2 linked regions of the Homo sapiens genome follow. The protein of the gene in region 1 purifies or fractionates together with the protein of each later gene. This does not show direct contact. Each region holds a gene or a part of one and is shown in the gene's direction. Other genes may lie near its edges. The genes, in order: ATP2A1 and NPTN.

Region 1 (7,270 bases):
ACCACAAGGGACCCATCCAGGAGCAGCCCCAACTTCATCTGTTATTCCTTTGTTTCTAGAAGCACACTTGTTTTCAGCAGATGATGAGTCCTGACTTAGGATTTGGGAAATGTGGCTACTGCACCTATAGGGAAAGCCTTTCCTTGCCCAGATGAACCCGGCCACTTCTAGGACTGTCACTCCCAGTTATTGCTATTGATACTTGCTGAACGTCTCCATTAAGCACTTCTCTCTGGGGAATTATATTCCCCACATTTCTCTCTTTCTCTCTTTTTTTGTATATGCAAAATGCTCATTGCTACTTTATTTAATATAACAAAAAAGCGGGCCAGACACAGAGACTCACGCCTATAGTCCCAGCATTCTGGGAGGCTGAGGTGGGAGGATCACTTGAGCCCAGGAGTTTAAGACCGGCCTGGGCAACATAGTGAGACCCGCATCTCTACAAAAAAAAACGAAAACAAAAACAAAGAAAGAAAGAAAAAAAAAAGAAAAAAATTAGTTGGGTGTGGTGGTGCAAAACTGTACTCTAGCTACTAGGAAGGCTAAGGTGTGAGGACTGCTGGAGCCCAGGAGGTCAAGGCTGCAGCAAGCAGTGATTGCACCACTGCACTCCAGCCTGGGCAACAGAGGGAGACCCTGTCTCCAAAATAAACAAACTGAAAGCAACTTAAATACCTGTCAATAGAGGACTAATTTTTAAAATTTATAAATGATAATGCAAACATAAATTTTTATTTATTTATTTTTGAGATGGGGTCTTGGCCTGTCGCCCAGGCTGGAGTGCAATGGCTATTCATAGGTGTGATCACAGCGCACTGCAGCCTTGAACTCCTGGGCTCAAACCATCCTCCTGCCTCAGCCTTCCAAGTAGATGAAGCTACAGGCATGCACCACTTTTCCTGGCTACTGATGTTTTGTTCTTTTTATTTTTGTTTTATTTTTTGGAGAAGTATCCATGATACATTTGGTGAAAAAGGCTTTCATTCTTTTTGTTTGTTTGTTTGTTTGTTTGTTTGTCTGTCTGTTTTGAGAGTCTTGCGGTGTCACACATTCTGGAGTACAGTGGCATGATCTCAGCTCACCACAACCTCCGCCTCCTGGGTTCAAGCAATTCTCCTGCCTCAGCCTCCCTAGTAGCTGGGATTACAGATGCAAGCCACAATGCCCAGCTAACTTTCTGTATTTTTAGTAGAGACGAGTTTTTTTTTTTGAGACGGAGTCTCTCTGCTTTGCCCAGGCTGAAGTGCAGTGGGGCCATCTCGGCTCACTGCAACCTCCGCCTCCTGGGTTCAAGCAATTCTCTTGCCTCGGCCTCCTGAATAGCTGAGATTACAGGCATGTGCCACAACGCCCAACTAATTTTTGTATTTTTAGTAGAGATGGGGTTTCCCCATGTTGGTCAGGCTGGTCTTGAACTCTTGACCTCGTGATCTGCCTGCCTCGGCCTCCCAAAGTGCTGGGATTACAGGCGTGAGCCACTGCGCCTGGCCTTCATTTTTTTTTTTTTTTTTTTTGAGACAGAGTTTTGCTCTTGTTGCCCAGGCTGGAGTGCAATGGTGTGATCCTGGGTTCAAGTGATTGTCCTGCCTCAGCCTCCCGAGTAGCTAGAATTACAGGCACGTGCCACCACGCCTGGCTGATTTTGTATTTTTAGTAGAGACGGGGTTTCTCCATGTTGGTTAAGCTGGTCTACTACTAAAAAATACAAAAATTAGCTGGACATGGTGGCGTGTGCCTGTAATCCCAGCTACTTGGGGGGCTGAGGCAGGAGAATGGCTTGAACCTGGGAGGCAGAGGTGGTAGTGAGCCAAGACTGCACCACTGCCCTCCAGCCTAAGCAACAGAGCAAGACTCCATCTCAATATAAATAAATAAAAATTAATTCAAATTAAATAATATACAGAGTACCTCCAATGCTCCACAGCAATTGCTCAGTTGCACCAATTGTACAGTGCAGATCACATAACATTTCTATCATTACTAAAAGTTATAGGGCCAGGTGTGGTGGTTCATGCCTGTAATCCCAATGCTTTAGGAGGCCAAGGCAAGAGGATTGCTTGAGGCCACGAGTGAGACCAGGCTGGACAACACAGGGAGACTCTATCTCTAAAACATTTTTTTAAAATTAGCCTGGAGTGGTGGCATACACCTGTGGTCCCAGCTACTCAGCTGGCTGGGAGGCTGAGGCAGGAGGATTGCCAGAGCCAAGGCTACAGTGGGCTATGATCACGTCATTGTACTTCAGCCTAGGAGACAGCGCAAGACTCTGTCTCTAAAGAAAAAAATAAGTAAATAAAAATAAATAAACAAACAATGAAAGTTTTTTTTTCTTTTTTCTGAGACGGAGTCTCGCTTTGTCGCCCAGGCTGGAGTACAATGGTGCGATCTTGGCTCACTGCAATCTCTGCCCAGCTAATTTTTGTATTTTTAGTAGAGACAGGGTTTCACCATGTTGGCCAGGCTGGTCTCGAACTCCTGACCTCAAGTGATTCACCCGCCTCAGCCTCCTGAAGTGCTGGGATTACAGGCATGAGCCACCGCGCCTGGCCAATAATGAAAGTTCTGTGGGACAGTGCCACAATAGGCCATCCTTTTCTTCTGTGCTTTAACCTAGGACCCTGAAGCACTGTGGCAACACTAGCCTTGGGATTTTCTCCTTTTGTGCTATAGGGACCAGACTTAGTGTTAGTCTCAGCCTTAGCTTGGGGTCTGCTCTGACCTCCAGATTCTTTTTGACCATTTTAAGAGGACTGGTCTCCCCTCCCTGTCTCCTCTCCAGGTGATCCGCCAGCTAATGAAGAAGGAATTCACCCTGGAGTTCTCCCGAGACAGAAAGTCCATGTCTGTCTATTGCTCCCCAGCCAAATCTTCCCGGGCTGCTGTGGGCAACAAGATGTTTGTCAAGGTCAGAAATCGGAATGTGCCTCAGCCCCCTCTTCTTCCTACTCCTAGCCACCTGTCACTGCCCTGGAAGGAAAGTGGTGGTCTCTGAATGCTGTTCTGGTCTCCTAGGGTGCCCCTGAGGGCGTCATCGACCGCTGTAACTATGTGCGAGTTGGCACCACCCGGGTGCCACTGACGGGGCCGGTGAAGGAAAAGATCATGGCGGTGATCAAGGAGTGGGGCACTGGCCGGGACACCCTGCGCTGCTTGGCCCTGGCCACCCGGGACACCCCCCCGAAGCGAGAGGAAATGGTCCTGGATGACTCTGCCAGGTTCCTGGAGTATGAGGTAAGCAGCTGGGAGCCTCCCACTGTCGTGGAGCTGGTGAAGGGCCGGGTCCCAGCCATCCACTCACAGCTCCACCACCCGGATCATTTCCTACCTCGTCAGTCAAGTTGATGGCTCCTTAGTACAGGCCATGGAATCACAGGACAGTAGAGTTTCAGAGAACCTTGGGAGGCCGGGTGCAGTGACTCACACCTGTAATCTCAGCACTTTGGGAAGCTGAGATGGGAAAAGCGCTTGAGCCCAGGAGTTCAAGACCAGCCTGGGCAATGAAGTGAGAACCCCATCTCTATTAAAAAAAAAATTTTTTTAATTACCTGGTTAAATTCATAGGGGTCTGGGTAAAAAGTAAAATACATTTTTAAAAATGTTAAAAGAAAAGAGATGAACTGGACATGGTGACACACACCTGTAGACCCAGCTACTGGGGAGCCTGAGGTGGGAGGATCACTTGAACCTAGGAGTTGGAGGCTGCAGTGAGCCATGATCCCACCACTGCACTCCAGCCTGCATGACAAGCAAGGCCCTGTCTCTAAAAACAAAAAACAAAAACACACACACACACACACAAAAGAGAGAAAGAATGAACCTTGGGAATCATCTAGCAAATGTGATCTGTGGTTGGTAACAAGGTGAGCCACTTGAACCAGAACAGGAGCCAATGCCACTCAGCACATAGGGGAGTTCAGCTGTTGTGTTTTCTGTAGCAAGACTGTCTCGAGACAGTTGATCTGTGTTCTGGCAAAGACTCCTTACTTCTACTAGACCAGCGCCAGAATGGCACCACAGTCCCTCCTTTCATTTTGTACAGAGGATTTCTTCTAAGTTGTGGGTCACGTAGTGGCACTGCCAAAAGCAGAAAGCAGTACCTCACTTCCAGTTCACGTTCTTTCTATGAAACACACATTTTGGCTGGGCATGGTGGCTCCCATCTGTAATCCCAGCATTTTGGGAGGCCAAGGCAGGCAGATCACAAGGTCAGGAGTTTGAGACCAGCCTGGCCAATATGGTGAAACTCCATCTCTACTAAAAATACAAAAATTAGCTGGGCTTGGTGGTGGGCACCTGTAATCCCAGCTACTCTGGAGGCTGAGGCAGGAGAATCGCTTGAACCTGGGAGGCGGAGGTTGCAGTGAGCAGAGATCGTGCCACTGCACTCCAGCCTGGGCAACAGAGCGAGACTCCATCCCCTGCGCCCGCCCCCCCCCCCCCGAAAAAGACACAATTTGGGGCCACGTGTCAGGGCTCACACCTATAATGCCAGCACTTTGGGAGGCCAAGCCTGGCAGATCACTTGAGGTTAGGAGTTTGAGACCAACCTGGCCAACATGGTAAAACCAAGTCTCTACTAAAATAAAAAAATTAGCCAGGCGTGGTGGTGCGCCCTTATAATCCCAGCTACTCAGGAGGCTGAGGCGGAGAATCGCTTCAACTTGGGAGGTGGAGGTTGCAGTGAGCTGAGATCATGCCATTGCCACTGCACTCCAGCGTGGGTGACAGAGCAAGAGTCCATCTCAAAAAACAAAACAAAAACAAAAACAAAAAAAAGGAAAGACACGATTTGGGCTGGGCGTGGTAGCTTATGCCTGTAATCGCAGCACATTGGGAGGCCGAGGCTGGAGGATCTGTTGAGCCCAGGAGTTTGAGACCAGCCTGGGCAACATAGCAAGATCCTTTCTCTACTAAAAATTAAAAAAAAAAAATTAGCTGGACATGTTGGTGCATGCCTGTAGTCCCAGCTACTTGGGAGGGTGAGGTAGGAGGATCGCTTGAGCCTGGTAGATTGAGGCTGCAGTGAGCTATGATCGCACCGTTGTACCACTGCACTCCAGCCTGGGTGACAGAGCAATACCCTGTCTCAAAAAAAAAAAGATACGATCTGACCCATGATGGGCCTGGCACCATCAGCACCTGCAGGTGCTTAGATGAATGAGATGTTTCCTGCCTCTGAGCTTCCAAGGCCCCACTGAGGTCTGACACCAGGCCCTGAGGCGGCAAGCCCAGGGTTCAGGCTTCCCACCCCTCCCCACCACTTCCTGACCTTTCACCCCATCCCCACCCCCCACCAGCTTCCTCCAGGGGAGTTTTCCAGATCCCCACCTGACCTGTGGCTCTCTGCTGTATCTCCCCAGACGGACCTGACATTCGTGGGTGTAGTGGGCATGCTGGACCCTCCGCGCAAGGAGGTCACGGGCTCCATCCAGCTGTGCCGTGACGCCGGGATCCGGGTGATCATGATCACTGGGGACAACAAGGGCACAGCCATTGCCATCTGCCGGCGAATTGGCATCTTTGGGGAGAACGAGGAGGTGGCCGATCGCGCCTACACGGGCCGAGAGTTCGACGACCTGCCCCTGGCTGAACAGCGGGAAGCCTGCCGACGTGCCTGCTGCTTCGCCCGTGTGGAGCCCTCGCACAAGTCCAAGATTGTGGAGTACCTGCAGTCCTACGATGAGATCACAGCCATGGTGAGAGGGCCCAGGCAGCTGCAGCCTTAGTGTCCACGGAGATGACCAGATGACTGTGCTGGGGAGAGTGGGGCCCAGGGCCAGAGGGCCCTGGTAAGATGCAAGAAGGGTGGGGATTCAGACCCCAAGGAAGAGTCTGAAGGAGGATTTGTGGGCTGGGCCTGGCACTTTGGGAGGCTGAGGTGGGCGGATCACTTGAGCAGGAGTTCGAGACCAGCCTGGGCAACATAGCAAGACCTCATCTCTACTAAAACAAAACTTTAAAAATAAATTTAGCCTCACAGTGGCACATATTTGTGGTCCTAGCTACTTGGGAGCCTGAGGTGGATCACTTGAGCACAGTTTGAGGGTGCAGAAAGTTATGACTGCACCACTGCACTTCAGCCTGGGCAATAGAGTGAGACCCTGTCTCAAAAAAAAAAAAAAAAAAAAAAGGTGGGCGGAGGGGCTCATGCCTGTAATCCCAGAACTTAAGGAGACTGAGGCAGGCAGATCACCTGAGGTCAAGAGTTTGAGACCAGCCTGGACAACATGGCAAGACCCCATCTCTACCAAAAAATACAAAAATTGGCCGTGCGTGGTGGCACATGCCTGTAGTCCCAGTTACTCAGGAGGCTGAGACAGAAGAACTGCTTGAACCTGGGAGGCGGAGGTTGCAGTGAGCTGAGATTGCGCCACTGCATTCCAGCCTGGGCGACAGAGTGAGACTCCGTCTCAAAAAAAAAAGTGTGCCGATCTTTGTTCTAAACTGAGTTTTTGGCCAAGTGTGGTGGCACATGCCTGTAATCCCAACACTTTGGGAGGCTGAGGCAGGAGGATTGCTTGAGCCCAGGAGTTCAAGACCAGCCTGGGCAACAGAGTGAGACCTCATCCCTAAAATAAAACCTTTTTTAAAAAGGAGGGATGTGTGAAGGTGCCCTAAGCCCACCTTCTCCTCCTCCCTCAGACAGGTGATGGCGTCAATGACGCCCCTGCCCTGAAGAAGGCTGAGATTGGCATTGCCATGGGATCTGGCACTGCCGTGGCCAAGACTGCCTCTGAGATGGTGCTGGCTGACGACAACTTCTCCACCATCGTAGCTGCTGTGGAGGAGGGCCGCGCCATCTACAACAACATGAAGCAGTTCATCCGCTACCTCATTTCCTCCAACGTGGGCGAGGTGGTCTGGTGAGCAGCTGGGTGGGCGTCCAGGAGGAAGCCGGGGTTAGGGTGGGGTGGCTGCAGGTCTGGGAGGCAGGACAGAGGTGTGACCACCTCCTTCCCACAGTATCTTCCTGACCGCTGCCCTGGGGCTGCCTGAGGCCCTGATCCCGGTGCAGCTGCTATGGGTGAACTTGGTGACCGACGGGCTCCCAGCCACAGCCCTGGGCTTCAACCCACCAGACCTGGACATCATGGACCGCCCCCCCCGGAGCCCCAAGGAGCCCCTCATCAGTGGCTGGCTCTTCTTCCGCTACATGGCAATCGGGGGTGAGCTGGAGGGGTTCCTCGATCCTCCCCACCCCTTGGGACTAACCCCCTCTCTGGGACACCAGCTCCCCCATGCAGGTGCTGAGAGGGTCTTCTTCCTT
Region 2 (7,270 bases), on another chromosome or scaffold:
CAATTAAAAAAAAAATCTCTTGGGACACTGGTTGAATTTCCTGTTCATTCCTTTCTTCCTCCTTGTGAAGACCAGTTTCTGGATTCCCTCTTTCCTGGGAGAGCCTTGGTCATTGTTACTTATTGAGTAGCTTCTCCAAGCATTCATTGTTTTTACATACCTTGTAATAGGACTTGATTGTAGTTGTTTTATCTCAGAATCTCATTTCCTTAAGGGAATGTGTGATATTTGACAGGATGCATAACTGTTGTTCATGCAGGTGTTTTAAGAAAAAACTTGGGCCGATAGAAGAGATAATAGTGTTTGTTTGCATTTTCTTTAAAGGTAGGCTTAATTGAGGGCAGTTGGACCTGCATCCTTTTCCAGTAGGTTGGAGAATCACCTACATTAGTAGAGCCTCATATATTAGTAACCCTGGTATCTGCCTGGGCATCTTTAGCGGGTGGGGGGTAGAGGATGGGTTTGGTCCCTTTACCCTATTCTGACCTGAAATGCTCTTCATCAAAGCTGAGTATGACAGTAAGCATAAAGACTGACTACATTACAAGCAGGGCTCTGAGCCAGAAGGTGGGGCCTTTGTATCCTGTTTGGAGTAGACTTCCGTGGTAACTGCGTCTAACGCTTTCTCACAGCCGCTCCTGACATCACTGGCCATAAACGGAGTGAGAACAAGAATGAAGGGCAGGATGCCACTATGTATTGCAAGTCAGTTGGCTACCCCCACCCAGACTGGATATGGCGCAAGAAGGAGAACGGGATGCCCATGGTGAGTAGGAGGCAGGCCCGGGTCTCTGGTTGCTGGAGTTTTCCCTGCAGAGGTCCAGACACGTGGGTCAGTTACTGTAGTAGCTGTATCCTCGGATGTGTGCATGGCGAGGGTCACCCTTTCTAGAGTCACGGTTTACAGCATGAATCAAGAGGTCATTGACAGTCTCTTCCAGCACAAAAATCCCTGTACGTGATTTGTTAAAGCTGTCCCTCTGGTAAGAGATTAGATTGCTCACTGTATTAGTCCATTCTCACTTTGCTCTAAAGAACTTCCAGAGACTGGGTAATTTATAAAGAAAAAAGGTTTAATTGGCTCATGATTCCACAGGCTTTACAGGAAGCATTGCCGGGGAGGCCTCAGGAAACACAGGAAAGATGATCTTTCCTATCTTAGACAACAGAGTGACATCTGGCCTGCTTTGAGTTTTATTGCTTTCAGATTACTGTAACTGAAGGTGAGGCATTGACAGGTAATATAGTTAAGATAAAGCTAAATCCAAAGAATTAGCCTCCCCCTCAGGCTTCTTTGATCCTTGAAACTTACCTATTTTTTAGACTGCAGTTGCTGTTTATTTCTTCTTAAGTGATCCCTGTAAGTAGAGAAACTTAGAATCATGGTGGAAGGTGAAGGGGAAGCAGGCAGGTCCTAGGTGGCTGGAGAGGAGGAAGAGAGTGAAGGAGGGAGATGCTACACACTTTTAAACAACCGGGTCTCATGAGAATTCACTGTCAGGAGAACAGCAAAGGGGATATCCGCCCCCATGATCCTGTCACCTCCCACAAGGCCCCTCCTCCAACACTGGGGATTATAATTCACCATGAAATTGGGGTGAAGACAAAATCCAAACCATATCACTTGCCTTCAGGATAGGACACTGAAAGAACCGAGCCTAATTCTCGTCCATTTATCCTGAAGAAAATACTGTTTTTGAAGTGGTCTTAGAGAACCTGCCTTGTTTTTTTAGTAGGAAACAAGGTACTGAGGGCAATTATTAGTACATTCCTGCAACACAGAACATACTGATAAGGAATTGGGGCAACCTGAGGAGGCCCAAGGTACTGAGGGCAATTACTAGTACATTCCTGCAACACAGAACATACTGATAAGGAATCGGGGCAACCTGAGGAGGCCCAAGGGCAGCCTTGGCAGCCTTAGACATTGGGAACCTGACGGTATTTGCCCCAGAAAATGTCAAAGAGAACATCTTTTCCGATCAGTGGGATGATTCATGATGTTGTTTGGAGAGTCAGAGCTTTAGAACCTCACTTTCTCTCTCATTATGATTGTTGACCCATTACCTTTTCTGTCAGAGAGCGTGTCAAGCGTTCCTCTGATCCCATGGATCCTCTTTGATTATCAGTCTTCAGAATCCAAAAGGACCTTAAAGATCATTAATCCATCTTCTTTGGAAGGGTTCCATAGTAGCCAAGATAAATTAGTGGCAAAACCAAGAGTTGTATCTAGTTTTTTTAAATTTCAAGTCCATTATTCTTCCTACTTCATGACATCTTGATAATAAAATGTTGAGTTGTGATAATGACTCCAACATCAGCGATGATTTCAGAGACCCGTTAACGAGGAGCAGGATGAGGATTGCCGAGGTGAAGATGCTGAGTCTTTTTTACAAGACACTGAACTTTCTAAGGCACTGGAGAGGAAATGTCCACTTCTCTCTGCTGGTCACTGGGAAGGAGTGCCCTTGAGCTTTTGCCAAAGCAGGTTGGAATTAACGCAGTATGTGTTTTAATCTGAAAGATGAAGCTTGAGGCATCACAGACTAGCTGTTTTAAAAGCTTACGAGTTCCCCATTTCAGATGTACCTGCACTCAAATGCTGACAAGATTGTATGCCATATCTAGAATCATTTCCAGGATAATATTCCCCTTTTTCTCTCCTATTTCTGATTGTGCTTTAGTTGTTGCAGGGTAAAGACACATGAGTCTGTTTTTTCCCTGCCGGGATCTCATGAGCTGAGTGCAGTGAGCCATCCCGCTGAGTCCCGACCTCTGCCTGTGCACTCTTGCACCTCTGCCTTCACACCCATGCGAATCCCTGCCTGCACTGCTCCTCCCTGTTTGATCAGCTGTCCTCCTCCACAGTCTAGTGCAAATGTTAGCTCATGTGTGAAGCTTTCCCTGACTCTTTCCAGCAGTGGCCACTCACTGTGCCCTACAGCACTCTATACACACGCTCTGTTGGGGCTTCTTAACACATTCCTGAAATCAGTCATCCCTTTTTGGATGTCTGGTTCCCTTTTGAGGCCAAGCTCCTTATTCATTTCTAGGTCTGTCTTCTCCCTATCTCACCTTCTCACTCCCACCTGCCCTTAGTAGGATATAAAGCATGCAGCATATTTTAGTAAATATTTGTTCTCTTTTATTTGTTTGTTTTGTTTTGTGTTAAGACAGGGTCTTGATCTGTCTACCAGGCTGGAGTGCAGCAACCTCCTGGGCTCATGTGATCCTCCTGCCTCAGCCTTCTGTGTAGCTGGGACCACAGGTGTACACCACTATGCTCAGCTAATTTTATTTTTGATTTTTTGTAGAGATGGGGTCTCAGTTTGTTGCCAAGGCCAGTCTTGAACTCCTGGGCTCAAGCGATCCTCCCACCTTAGCTTCCTAAAGTGCTGAGATTACAGGCATGAGCCTCTGTGCCCAGCCACAAATATTTGTTGATTGATTGAATAACCTTTCCTCTAACCTCTAGTCCTTAAATGAAAGGAAAGTTATGAATTTCCCCCAGTCTGACTAGGAGTGAGTTCTTAGCATTGTTTGTGGAGGAAGTTTAAGGAGACTTCCTCAGAACTCACCAAGTGTGAAGTCAGTGTGCTGACTCTGAGGTCATCAGAGAGGCCTGAGGTCCCCGAGGCATGCCTGACTGTAGGGGTTGTACCCCTCCTTCTGCCGTCCTCTTTCTGCTGTGGTTTCTTACCTGGTGTTGGAGGCAGCATTTACTAGGTTGTTGGACTTTTCTGAGTCTCCAGGCAGTAGGACCTGCACTCACTTCGTGGAAGTCGGGGAAGTCTGGAGGACCGATGGTAAGGGAGGCTTGCCTGGCTCTGTCAGAAGTTGATTTGTTGTTGTTGATACTGAAGGGAAATCATTAATGAAATGTTCCTAGACACTGCTTCCTCATTCTGGCTGGTGCCTAAAAAGAACGGAGAGCAGTGTCACCCTCTCTTGAACATTAGCTCAGTTACTCACTCTCACCTTTGTGTATTCTCACTTTTTTGCAGGACATTGTCAATACCTCTGGCCGCTTCTTCATCATCAACAAGGAAAATTACACTGAGTTGAACATTGTGAACCTGCAGATCACGGAAGACCCTGGCGAGTATGAATGTAATGCCACCAACGCCATTGGCTCCGCCTCTGTTGTCACTGTCCTCAGGGTGCGGAGCCACCTGGCCCCACTCTGGCCTTTCTTGGGAATTCTGGCTGAAATTATCATCCTTGTGGTGATCATTGTTGTGTATGAGAAGAGGAAGAGGCCAGATGAGGTTCCTGACGGTAAGAGCATCCCTACAAAATAGCTGTACTGCTGGGGTTGGTTCCTTCGGGTGGTTTCCAAGTACCCAAAGAGGACTATAGGGATGTTGGGATTCAATCCCTAAAGGAAAGAAGGAAAATTCTTATACCAGTTCCTAACCCCCTACCCGTAAGAGTTTTTTATTTTTATTTTTTATTTTTATTTTATTTTTATTTTTTTTGCATTAGCCATCTAGAGCTGTCCTTAGCTCTCTCCCTCTGTTTGGGTGTTTTCCAAACCCTAGTCCCATCTGCCTTTCAGGCCCCATGTGGTGAATGGGCAGCTGTCAGTCTCTTTGTTCAGCTCTGTCCTCCTTCAATACAGATCATCAGGCAGATTGAGCTTGAGGAGAATCCAAGTCAAGCCTAGAAGCCACCCCAAGATGGCAGGCCACCTGGCCTTTCAGGCAGATTTAAGGTATCTAACTGGTTGTCACATGGTTGCCTGGTGTAGCCCCTGTAGGTAACTGCCCCAGCCCAGTCAGACTGTTCTCAGAAAAGCCATTGGAACAAGCCAGCTTTTGGTTCCTTGGTTGGTCCCTTTGATAGGTTTCCAGCGCTCTCTGCTGGGTGGCTTTCCATCTGTGTCTCACAGACAAAGGAGAGTCTGATGTATCCACCCATCTAGTGTAAGACAGAGATAGCAAAGGCGGAACAAATGGAGTCCATGCCCCGAGGCTGTGCCCTCAAGCTGGCCTAGGGTCAGAGAAGGGAGGAGATGGTAGCAGCAGAACCACAGCACACCACTGAGCACTGGAAAGAGCAAGAGCTGAAATCTTAGGTTATTGGATATGCCTAGAGTCAGAAAAGCCTTGGGAAATTTTTGGTGATCGATTTTTCCTGTGAAGGGGGAAGCTGCTGATGGAGACTTGTATCTGCAGTACTTCAGGTTCCCAGCTGGCTCCCCATCCCCACCCTATAACATGACCGGCGTACAGAAATTAATTGGCCGACTGTTACCACCACTAGTCTGTCCCTGGCTAGACTAGACAGATGGGTGTGCCCCTGGGCTCAGTGGTAGCCTACCCGGGGTGATGGTGGGGTTGCCAGCTGTAGTCCAGCTGTTCTGGGGCCTGTGTTTGTGCACCTGTGGTGCTGTATCCTGCCCCACAGAGCTGGCTGTCCAGTGGAGAATACAAAGTGACATCTGGTGCTCCCTCAGAAAGAATGTGGCCCCAGAGGCATGCCAGTGGCTTTAGACTCTCTGGGAGGACATGTTTGAGAGCAACAGCCCCTTCCCCATCTTTTCCTTTCTTCTCAGCAGTTATAAATCTCTCTGCCTGCAGTAAGTAGAGTGAGTGGCTGGTGAGGAGGTTTGTTGATGACACTGACAATATCTGGTGACTCCCTCCAGATGTGCACTCAGCAGTGAGCTGGGCAGAGGCGTGGGAAGGACGTTGGCTGGGAGCAGACGGCCTCTGCAAATGAATCTCTAGTTTCCTGCAACCTGGGAGTGTCCCCATGAGTTTTACTTTCCTACTTTATGAAGTGAACCTGCTTTCTTTGGGATTTCATGTACTCCTAATGCTTTTTCTCTCCAGGTATTTCTTTCCTGCTACATATTAGGACTCCCAAGGCAAGAGTGCACCTTTATTTAGACCTGGGAGTAAAGGGAAAGAGTTGCCTGTCTTTCGTGTGTTTTCAGCTTTGGCTCTGTGGGATCAGTTATGCCTCATTCCTGAAAAGGGCCTTTTTATCCCCCCAGAATGCTTTTGCTTTGCCAATACCACCTTCCTCAGCCTGCCTTTTGGAAAGGTTGAGAAGCTAAAAAGTCAGGTAAGAGAAGGCAGAGATGGACTTCAGAACCTGATTTTTAAATTTTAAGGCAAGGCTGGCTGCCACTGGTGAGAGTGATGCAGCAGCCTAGCGTGTTCCCAGCAGAGGTCTAGTCTTTGCCCTAAGAAGTCACCGCGCTTATGAGGTTGCTATCACAGTGCATGTGGTAGGTTAGATTTGAGAAATGGTTAGGATTGTTCTGTTGGATAAGTGCAGACACCTGCCCAGGGAAGCAGCTCTTTTTTTGTAAGAGTTTTCTTGGTTACTGAAATCAAATGGGGGACCAGTTTGTTATAGGAGACATCTGTGGCCAGCAAATCTGAACAGCTTCCTAGAGGGAAAGTACCTCTTTTAAACTAAGTTATTATAGACAGTGAATGAATCCTACCCTTAAAAGAGATGACGGCAGGGTAAGTGCAAAGTAAAACCTCCTTGCTCTAGTCTCTTGGGAGAGTATTGTAATGAAAGCAGCGTTTACTTCGTTGTTGTTGCATTGGGGTGAAAAATCTGAGATGCTGGAATGATGGCAATGTTTGCCTTCTCTCCTTCCCTTCCTGACAGCCAGTGTGGGCCAGGCTCCACTCTCCATCTTCACACCCTGCCCTTGCTCCAGTATTTCCATTCTGTTTTTCTCCTCTGTCTCTTTCTGTCTTTCTCTCAAACTCCATCCTGCTTCCACCCCTGCCCGCTTTTCTTCTCCTTTCCTGGAAGTAATCATTAAACAAAAGAAAAAGTTGAATGTTCTTTGGTGAGTTTCCTTCTTCTCTGCCTTTTCCTTCTTTAGCCAGTTCCCCTCAACCCCTGTGCACTCCATAGGAAGGACAAACTTACCTGTCTGCTTCCTTCCCATGTGCTTCTCCCCAAATTTTCATATAGATATATACGTACACTCCTTTTGGAATAAACGAAGAGGTACATTATATTTGACACAAACTTGGGAGTGTTAAGAGGTCATAAGTGTTTACCTATCAGATAACCATCTGTGGCTCTGTGTTGGATTTTTTTTATACCATTAGGAAAATGGGAATTTTTTTATAGGCCTGCCATACTTCTACTTTGCCAAATAGCACTTTATTATCAAGATACACCCATGGCTCATTTCAGACTCACTGAACTTTTTTTATATGAATGCACAGTCGTCATATTTTGGGCAGTCTGTGAGTTCTTGGTAACTCATCCCCTTACTACAAAAGCACTA

What was found.
Region 2: the proteins of ATP2A1 (region 1) and NPTN purify together in Homo sapiens (affinity purification with mass spectrometry; 2 studies listed by BioGRID and IntAct, with this or other methods). This does not show direct contact.

Annotation. Positions count from the first base shown.
Region 1 is NC_000016.10:28,895,218-28,902,487, forward strand, and holds part of ATP2A1 (sarcoplasmic/endoplasmic reticulum calcium ATPase 1), read left to right. Parts: intron 1-2,782; coding exon 2,783-2,908; intron 2,909-3,015; coding exon 3,016-3,234; intron 3,235-5,363; coding exon 5,364-5,699; intron 5,700-6,645; coding exon 6,646-6,866; intron 6,867-6,966; coding exon 6,967-7,169; intron 7,170-7,270. UniProt on the Homo sapiens protein: Key regulator of striated muscle performance by acting as the major Ca(2+) ATPase responsible for the reuptake of cytosolic Ca(2+) into the sarcoplasmic reticulum.
Region 2 is NC_000015.10:73,567,158-73,574,427, reverse strand, and holds part of NPTN (neuroplastin isoform b precursor), read left to right. Parts: intron 1-632; coding exon 633-766; intron 767-4,004; coding exon 4,005-4,278; intron 4,279-4,621; coding exon of another isoform or gene 4,622-4,638; exon of another isoform or gene 4,639-4,714; intron 4,715-4,884; exon of another isoform or gene 4,885-7,270. UniProt on the Homo sapiens protein: Probable homophilic and heterophilic cell adhesion molecule involved in long term potentiation at hippocampal excitatory synapses through activation of p38MAPK. May also regulate neurite outgrowth by activating the FGFR1 signaling pathway.